Linked DNA regions of Homo sapiens: all the other regions are reported to be linked to region 2. The links are microRNA targets in miRTarBase. Many come from high-throughput screens and were not tested one by one. Region 2 holds a microRNA gene; each other region holds the end of a gene's coding sequence.
What was found. Region 2 holds the annotated microRNA hsa-miR-548d-3p (CAAAAACCACAGUUUCUUUUGC, at 1,743-1,764, shown strand). A microRNA usually pairs through its seed, bases 2 to 8, with sites in the 3' UTR of a target mRNA and lowers its output. Matches are read on the target gene's strand: a 7mer-m8 pairs with bases 2 to 8, a 7mer-A1 pairs with bases 2 to 7 and ends in A, and an 8mer does both.

Region 1 (3,000 bases), not on the chromosome of region 2:
TTCTGAACGGCCGGCTGGAGCCACGCAGATGCACACTGGTTTGGACAAATGCACATGCACTCCCCAACTCCTCTCACCTCTGGGTCCTCCCCTCCAGCCTTAGGCCCAGGGCTCACTCCTTAGTGCCCCCCACACCTCATGAGCAGGCCTAGTTCATTGTCTCCAAGACATTCTGCAAAGGCCTCACTACCCCCGAAGGTCTAAGGAGTTCCTACTGACTTAGGGTCTACAGGGTTCAAAATGCTCTGAGCAGACTGAGAAACCAAAGACCAGTTCCAAATAAGACTTATCCTGAGGAGCACCAGGAGTGCCCATCATCAATTCACAAAATCCTAAACCTCCAAATGGAGGGGACATGACATGTCACCTTACCCTCGATGAACGCCCTCTACACAAATACCCTAGCCAGTCTTGACTCCTTTTGACATGACCCTGTTGTGGGAGCTGCAAAGACCATCATGGATCCCACAAACAGGCATGGCGCTGGGCAAGACGGCCATGGATCCCACAGACAGGGATGGCACCAGGCAGCCCGTGGTGCAAGGCAGGAAAGGGGAGGACAAAGCAGGGCAGGGATTAGAGAGTGCAGAGGCCCAGCTTTAGGAAGATGGTTGAAGCCTGCAAAGAGTTAACGGCATTCCACTGGGTCTGGGAGGATAAACGTGGTTTGGATAGAGACACAGGGACAGCATGAGCGAAGGGCCCATAAGGGAAGGACCTCGGTATTTAACAGAAGCATTGGACAGAGAAGTCTGGTGAAACGGACGGAAGGCTAGAGAGGCAGCTGGGATTAACTCACGGAGGCCTGGACTGTCCCGGCCAGTGGGTAAGACTGTGCTCTTTAGATGGGCGCTGGAGGTGAAGTGTCCTGTGTTTAGTGAAATCCCTCTCTCAATAGCCCGGATGGAGGATAAGAGGAGCCCTGCAGGGAGGACAATGAACCAGGAAGCAGCCGACAGGGAATGGAATGGAGGCAGAGGATCGACAGGGAATGGAATGGAGGCAGAGGATCGGCAGCCTGGGGGAGGAATGGCAGGGCCTCCTCCCTGATCAGCCAGGCCAGGGACAGAGTGGCACATAAAGGGCACATGAGCCTGGGTAACAAGAAGAAGGCTGCTGGTGGTCAGAGACACTGGGCTATCAGGGGAATTCTAACAGTTGGGAGAAAATGCCCAGCTCGTCGTGGGGAAGCTTGAGAGGTAACATTTGAGAGGCCAGGAAGCATTAGCTCGTGGCAGCTGCACTTTTCTCTGCCTTTGATCATCGCCCGTCTGGGCACCTGGCTGACACTGACTAGAAGGAGAAAGGGCCAGGGCCAGGAGGCATTTGCTCCCCCTCCCATGGCCAGAGGCAGCCAGCATCCTAATGAATGAGGGTGAGTGAAGGAAGTATTTGGAATTTCACAGAGAGGCCCATTTCCTTCTGCACATATGAAGCACCTGCTAGTGCTGTGTACTAGACACTGGAAAGCTGAATTTCCAGGAGGAGGAGATGCTCGTAGAAACAATAAACGAACAACATGCAGCGGGAGAGCCACAGACAGGACACATAAGGTCTAGAAGAAGCCTCAGTGTGAACCAAAGGGGAAGGGGAGGGGGAGGAAGAGGAAGGGAAGGGGAAGGAAGCAGCTTAGGGTTAAAGGACAAAAGAGATCCCAAGCTCCAGGCCCACAGGCCAGGGAGGTCCCAGGAGTGAGGGGGTGGGGGGGGGGGTCCAGGGTGGGCGGGGCAGGTCCAGGAAGCGAGGGTGGTGGGGGGGGGCAGGGAAGGCGGTTGGCGGGGGTGGGGAGGGCACGGGAGTGGGGGAAGGGTGGGGGGGTGCCAAGGAGGGTAGGAAAGGGGCCAGGAAGGGGTCTGGGGAGGGGTGGGGGGGGCAGGGGTAGGGCCGGGGAGGGTGGGTTGTGGGAGAGGATGAGCGGGAGGCGGGAAGGGGCTGGGCAAGGTGGTGCTAGTAATGGGGGAGGGCTGGGGAGGGCCTGGGGACCTGAGTGCAGTGGACAAGGAAGAAGCCTTGGAGATGGGCAGGCGGCAGTGCTGCTAGGAAGAACAAGGGAGAGAGGAGACCAGGTGCCAAGGGACAAGACGATGACTGTGAGATGGGCAAATATCACCCAACCCGTGCCCGGCACCATTTTCCATGTTAACAGACACATGTAGCATCTTCACCTGAAATGCTCTCGAAGGTCTGCGAAGGCCACAGCACACTAAAGCACTGATGTGATGAAGCGTGTGTGTGTGTCTATGTGAGTACTTAGCACAACAGTACTTGGGCAGGAGGTAAGTCCATTAAATAACCGTCTTTATTTAGAAACGCAGACCCCACACGTTTCAGGAATCCTGAGCCCCAGTCTGGCTTTGTCACCCCCTGACTCTGTGAGGTTGAGTCAGCTGACTTGTCAGGACCCCTTTGTAAAATGTATGAGGTTTTGATCCAAGTAGAGTTAGAAGTTTAAAAGTTCGCCCATTTGTAAAATTATGGGGCTCAACTACATTTTTTAAGCAGGCTTCCAATTCTTAAAAACAACTACAGCAATAAAACTAGGGTGAGTCTATGATTTCAGGCAAATTCTAATTGGCTGATTGTACGTTAGACCTTTTTCTTTTGCATCTAAAATTAAATGAACTGATACCTTCATGTATACACTTGATCTCTGTTAAGATGGTGGACGAAAAATTTGTTAGAATAGAAAAAAAATACATGAAGAGTGAAATAACATGATCTCTTCAGAATGGCCAAATTGTGCTGAGATGGTGATGAGGAGCCGCTCTATGTCCTGAGGCATCTTCTAAGAAAATTCTCTGGCTGGTGCTTTCTGAGTTCATCCTCCTCGGACCTCACTGCTCTCACATTTTTGTTTGTATTTCTTCATCCTCTGCCTGGTTGACCTGTCCTGGAGCGTGGGGTCTGATCGGGTTCTTGGACTCCACGCACTCCACAAGCCCATACGCCACCATGGTCAGGCTCAGGACCCCCAGCAGAATGTAGAGCTTGACGTGCACG
Region 2 (3,352 bases):
TTCCCACCTCAGCCCCCAAGTTCTGGGGTTACAGGCGTGAGCCACCATGCCTTGCCTTTTTTTTCTTTTTGATGTTATATATTGTTTGAGAACTCTTAAGTTCCTTTGTGAAATTATGCTTTATAAAATGTCTTCTAGGATTCATTTGTGGGGGGTCTAACAACCGTCTGTTTTCCATTGATTTCAATTTCTGTGGGCCATTTGGGATGTTATTTTATAGATTTTTTTAATCCATTGGAAATAGTGAGGTGCCCTGAGAAAATTTATTCACATGTAATGCGTTAAATCTTACAAAAGAAGAAATATTACTGAATGATATAGACTGTGTTCATAGTATTAATCTCTTCTCTCTTATTTTTAAAATTTAGTTCTATTGTTTCCACCCTGCTAGCTCTTATGGATGGATTGGACAGCAGAGGGGAAATTGTGGTCATTGGTGCTACGAACAGGCTAGATTCTATAGATCCTGCTTTACGAAGGCCTGGTCGCTTTGATAGAGAATTCCTCTTTAGCCTGCCTGATAAAGAGGTAAGAATTTAATGTCACTCAAATTTTGACAAAATATATTGCTGTTTATTAATAATAAGTCTTGGTATAGTAAAAATTTGGAGATTCTTGAGTTTTGTATCATGGTCTTGTCAAATGATAGTAAACAACTCAAATGGGGACAAATTTTTATTCTTTTCTTTAAATATAATAATGCCTTCCCAAAATTACTCTTAAAATTATTTCAATTTGAGTGTAGCCTTTGGATGTTCTAAGTGTTGCTTCAGAACATATGGCTTAATGAGTAATCAATCCTTAGCCAGTTTGTTAGCCTTGTCTTTTTCATGAATATCATCATATAATCCTACCGAGTTTTTTTAAGTCTACTTAATCTTCTGGGAACCAAAGAGGAAAATATGTCAAGAGCTGTCTGTACTCTTAAAAACAGCTCTTAATATGCACCAGAATGAATAGCTACTTTAGTAGTTACTTTTCTCTTATTTGTGTTTATGACGAATATAACTTTAGTGCTATAAATGCAAATATGTTTAATAATGAGACTTAAGTTCATTAAACTCTTAAAAGTACATCCTTTTTCTTATTTTCACTTTCATATTTTGCTTATATTGAGTTTTTTTGGTTGGTTGTTTATGATAAAGTCTTGCTCTGTCACCCAGGCTGGGGTGCAGTGGCACAATCTCAGCTCACTGCAACTTCCGTCCCCGGGATTCAAGCAATTCTCGTGCCTCAGACTCCCAAGTAGCTGGGATTACAGGCACATGCTACCACGCCCAGCTAATCTTTGTATTTTTAGTAGAGAGTGGTTTTCACCATGTTGGCCAGGCTGGTCTTGAACTTCCAACCTCAAGTGATCCACCTGCCTCGGCCTCCCAAAGTGCTGGGATTACAGGTGTGAGCCACCGCACCCGGCCAGTATTAAGTACTGATCACTTTAAAATTTTAGATAATCAAAAGTATTTTAATCAAAATTAATGTAATCTGAATAGCATTTATTATTATAGTTGTAAAAAATTAAATTGTTTTTATTCATAGGCTCGAAAAGAGATTCTAAAGATTCACACCAGGGATTGGAATCCCAAACCACTGGACACATTTTTAGAAGAGCTAGCAGAAAACTGTGTTGGTAAACATTGTTTTAAGCAGTTAAAATAAATACTACATTTATTTCAAATATGAAACAAGTTATATTAGGTTGGTGCAAAAGTAATTGTGGTTTTTGCCTGTAAAAGTAATGGCAAAAACCACAGTTTCTTTTGCACCAGACTAATAAAGAAATACAAGGTTATATTTGTTTCTTATCTCTTATTTGTGGCATTTTCTTCTCATGAAGTCTTGGTATTAAATAGAGATATTTGACAAATTGGCCATCAGGGGCAGAGTAGATAATAATATAATTGTACAAAATACAATATATTATTATATCATAATAAGATAATAGCTATTCTTTACTGACCATTTTGTAGTCATCCTTTTAAGCATTTTACATATATTATTTCATGTAATTTTCACATCATTCCTGTGATGTAGGTAGCAGTATCTCTACAGATGAAGAAATGGCTGGAGAGCATTATGTGAATCTTCTAAGGTCATACAGCTAGTAAATTACAAACTGGAATGTGAATCTAGTCTGTGTGATTTTAAAACTCTTGCTTTTGACCTCTGTGCTATACTTAGTGCTTGTGTATTGCACTCTTAAAAGTTGATTGATTGTTGATGGCCATTACTACCCTATAAGTTTACTGGGTAAAAGAGATTTTGGTCTTATTACTCTTAAATATTTGCTAACTATATTCCGAGGCTGATTTTTAATTTTTTTTTTAACCATGGTCATGCTAATAGAGTTTTGTGTTTCTTTGTTTGGTCGGCTGGTTCTTTTCTTCCCCTGGTTGCTTTGGATAGGATACTGTGGAGCAGATATTAAATCAATATGTGCTGAAGCTGCTTTATGTGCTTTACGACGACGCTACCCACAGATCTATACCACTAGTGAGAAACTGCAGTTGGATCTCTCTTCAATTAATATCTCAGCTAAGGATTTCGAGGTAGCTATGCAAAAGATGATACCAGCCTCCCAAAGAGCTGTGACATCACCTGGGCAGGCACTGTCCACCGTTGTGAAACCACTCCTGCAAAACACTGTTGACAAGATTTTAGAAGCCCTGCAGAGAGTATTTCCACATGCAGAATTCAGAACAAATAAAACATTAGACTCAGGTATAAAACTTGATTGACCATTTAAAGTTAGTTTTTATAATCAGTAAAGTGAAATGTTTCATACATACCAGAAATATTTATTTGTAAAAGAATCTCTTGAAAAGAATTTGGTAATGCTTTACCTGGGATATTTGAAGGAAATTTACTCCATGGATTGCCCTTAATTTAACTTATTGTAAGTTTGGGGTGCATTTTTACATTTACTTATTAATTCATATCTACACAAATATTTTTGATTCTTTGAAAAAATTTAATTGAAGTATGCTGACTTGGTAACTGAAGCAATAAAGATTTGCTTTGCAATCCAAAAGTTACTAATGTACAATTTTTTGGTTTTATAGATATTTCTTGTCCTCTGCTAGAAAGTGACTTGGCTTACAGTGATGATGATGTTCCATCAGTTTATGAAAATGGACTTTCTCAGAAATCTTCTCATAAGGCAAAAGACAATTTTAATTTTCTTCATTTGAATAGGTATATTTTTCTTGCAAATCAATGTTTTTTGCATGTGTAAATTTTCTAAAAATAAATGAGATGTGGTTGAAAAAATAAAAAGTGCTAACCAATCTGCTTTTTATTTAAATTAAACTACCAGAAATTTTTTGTTGTTACAGTTGTCACAACAGTAGAA
Region 3 (3,000 bases), not on the chromosome of region 2:
TGTACGTGCCCACCGTCTTCGAGAACTATGTGGCCGACATTGAGGTGGACGGCAAGCAGGTGGAGCTGGCGCTGTGGGACACGGCGGGCCAGGAGGACTACGACCGCCTGCGGCCGCTCTCCTACCCGGACACCGACGTCATTCTCATGTGCTTCTCGGTGGACAGCCCGGACTCGCTGGAGAACATCCCCGAGAAGTGGGTCCCCGAGGTGAAGCACTTCTGTCCCAATGTGCCCATCATCCTGGTGGCCAACAAAAAAGACCTGCGCAGCGACGAGCATGTCCGCACAGAGCTGGCCCGCATGAAGCAGGAACCCGTGCGCACGGATGACGGCCGCGCCATGGCCGTGCGCATCCAAGCCTACGACTACCTCGAGTGCTCTGCCAAGACCAAGGAAGGCGTGCGCGAGGTCTTCGAGACGGCCACGCGCGCCGCGCTGCAGAAGCGCTACGGCTCCCAGAACGGCTGCATCAACTGCTGCAAGGTGCTATGAGGGCCGCGCCCGTCGCGCCTGCCCCTGCCGGCACGGCTCCCCCTCCTGGACCAGTCCCCCGCGAGCCCGGAGAAGGGGAGACCCGTGTCCCACAAGGACCCCACCGGCCTGCCTGGCATCTGTCTGCTGACGCCTCTGGCTTGCGCCAGGACTTGGCGTGGGCACCGGGCGCCCCCATCCCAGTGTCTGTGTGCGTCCAGCTGTGTTGCACAGGCCTGGGCTCCCCACTGAGTGCCAAGGGTCCCCTGAGCATGCTTTTCTGAAGAGCCGGGCCTCAGAGTGTGTGGCTGTGTGTCTGTTCGACTCCCCTCGCCCCATTTTCACCCCACCCCCGCCTCTGATCCCCGGGGGCGAGATTGGCGCGGGAGTGTGGCCGCGCCCCATCAGATGTTCGCCCTTCACCAGCGGGAGCTTGATATCCCTTGTCTGTAACATAGACCCCGGGTACTGCGGGAGGGGAGGGCTGCTGGGGAGGATGGGGGGATGTTATATAAATATAGATATAATTTTATTTTCGGAGCTAAGATGGTGTTATTTAAGGGTGGTGATGGGTGAGCGCTCTGGCCCAGGCTGGGCCAGACTCCCGCCCAAGCATGAACAGGACTTGACCATCTTTCCAACCCCTGGGGAAGACATTTGCAACTGACTTGGGGAGGACACAGCTTCAGCACAGCCTCTCCTGCGGGCCAGCCCGCTGCGAACCCTCCACCAGCTACCGGAGGGAGGAGGGAGGATGCGCTGTGGGGTTGTTTTTGCCATAAGCGAACTTTGTGCCTGTCCTAGAAGTGAAAATTGTTCAGTCCAAGAAACTGATGTTATTTGATTTATTTAAAGGCTAAAATTTGTTTTTTTATTCTTTGCACAATTGTTTCATTGTTTGACACTTAATGCACTCGTCATTTGCATACGACAGTAGCATTCTGACCACACTTGTACGCTGTAACCTCATCTACTTCTGATGTTTTTAAAAAATGACTTTTAACAAGGAGAGGGAAAAGAAACCCACTAAATTTTGCTTTGTTTCCTTGAAGAATGTGGCAACACTGTTTTGTGATTTTATTTGTGCAGGTCATGCACACAGTTTTGATAAAGGGCAGTAACAAGTATTGGGGCCTATTTTTTTTTTTTCCACAAGGCATTCTCTAAAGCTATGTGAAATTTTCTCTGCACCTCTGTACAGAGAATACACCTGCCCCTGTATATCCTTTTTTCCCCTCCCCTCCCTCCCAGTGGTACTTCTACTAAATTGTTGTCTTGTTTTTTATTTTTTAAATAAACTGACAAATGACAAAATGGTGAGCTTATGATGTTTACATAAAAGTTCTATAAGCTGTGTATACAGTTTTTTATGTAAAATATTAAAAGACTATGATGATGACATTTATAAAATGGCTCTTGTGGTTTAATAGTGTGTAAAAATACCCTTGTGAATTTGGAACAAGGGAGATATTCTCCTAGGCGAGATCCTTTCTTGCCAACTCCGTTTCCCTTATAGCAAATGTAGTAAATGAGGATGAAGTCCCTTTGAGAGCATGTGGGGGTTGGGTGACCAAGGGAGACCAGGTTGTTCCTGTCACATTCCTAGAGGAAGATGAGTGGATACCCCGACACCCAGTGCAAAAACTTTTGACCTATTATGTACTCAGTTCAATTGGGTGAGACCGAAGATCTTGATTTCATTCATCTGTGTGTCTTAAAAACACTTGTGTCTTTAAGTCTATTATGGGGCTTTGCTTATTCTTTGAGTCTTGGAAAGTTATCATTTGTGCATTTTAAATTTAGAAAACCTTTATTAATCGTTGGTGTGGGGTCACGCTATCAGGAAGCCTGTTTACTGGGTTCCCTTCAGGCCATCAAGGGGTTTACACAATATCCCAGGAAGTTGTAGGTTGTTATCTTTGGGCCTGGAGCTTCCAGAAGTGGGGGAGTTCAGATAAAGAGGTGATTTTTTAAAATTATCAAGCTTTGATCCCAATATGTCCTTTATTAAGTAACCTAGAATGATTTATTCTAAGTTCAGAGAAGGGCCATATTGTGGAAAGAACATTGGATGTTTTGGTGGTTCTTAAAGTTGGAGCTGCCACTTTTTGAGAGTCATGATAAACTCTAATCGTAGACACTTAGCTTTGCTGTAATGGTTCTTAGAACCAGACGGGCTGATTTATAGGTGGAGACCACATTAAAATTCTGCTGCAGGCATGATGGTTCAAACCTGCCAGCTCTCGCAGCTTCCAGGGAAGGTAGCTGAGAGTGTCAACTGCCTGAGAAGTGTGGTTTTCATTTTTTTTGAATCAGCATTTTCTGGGTTTCTAGCACTTAGTTGCCACCTTCTCCTTCCCCCTCCTCCCCATTCCCAGGACAAAGGTGGAGGTCTCCTTTGAAGTTGTTTGCTTCAAAGCTTGAGGCTTCTGTTTCCTGGTCTTACCCCAGACTCCAAGAGCTTTTGTTGAGTGAATAAAACCTGGTTGGTGGTGACCTTTCACCCACTTAAATGCTGGCAGTAACT

Region 1: the mRNA of UNC93A is a reported target of hsa-miR-548d-3p. Seed matches in the 3' UTR shown: 7mer-A1 at 2,515-2,521.
Region 3: the mRNA of RHOB is a reported target of hsa-miR-548d-3p. Seed matches in the 3' UTR shown: 7mer-A1 at 1,455-1,461.

What each region holds. Positions count from the first base shown.
Region 1 is chr6:167,315,296-167,318,295 of GRCh38, reverse strand. It overlaps UNC93A (unc-93 homolog A), which reads right to left. Exons shown (of 8, transcript NM_018974.4): 8 at 2,282-3,000. The coding sequence ends at 2,844. Among named protein-coding and RNA genes, the nearest start is that of TTLL2, 8.3 kb to the left of the region's middle. RefSeq lists an enhancer at 831-1,626.
Region 2 is chr8:123,346,461-123,349,812 of GRCh38, reverse strand. It overlaps MIR548D1 (microRNA 548d-1), which reads left to right and starts at 1,683; the gene lies at 1,683-1,779. It overlaps ATAD2 (ATPase family AAA domain containing 2), which reads left to right. Exons shown (of 28, transcript NM_014109.4): 14 at 369-528; 15 at 1,540-1,630; 16 at 2,407-2,721; 17 at 3,063-3,195. It overlaps MIR548AA1 (microRNA 548aa-1), which reads right to left and starts at 1,779; the gene lies at 1,683-1,779.
Region 3 is chr2:20,447,563-20,450,562 of GRCh38, forward strand. RHOB (ras homolog family member B) reads left to right here. Exons shown (of 1, transcript NM_004040.4): 1 at 1-1,878. The coding sequence ends at 494. Among named protein-coding and RNA genes, the nearest start is that of RHOB, 2.0 kb to the left of the region's middle. RefSeq lists an enhancer at 2,639-3,000.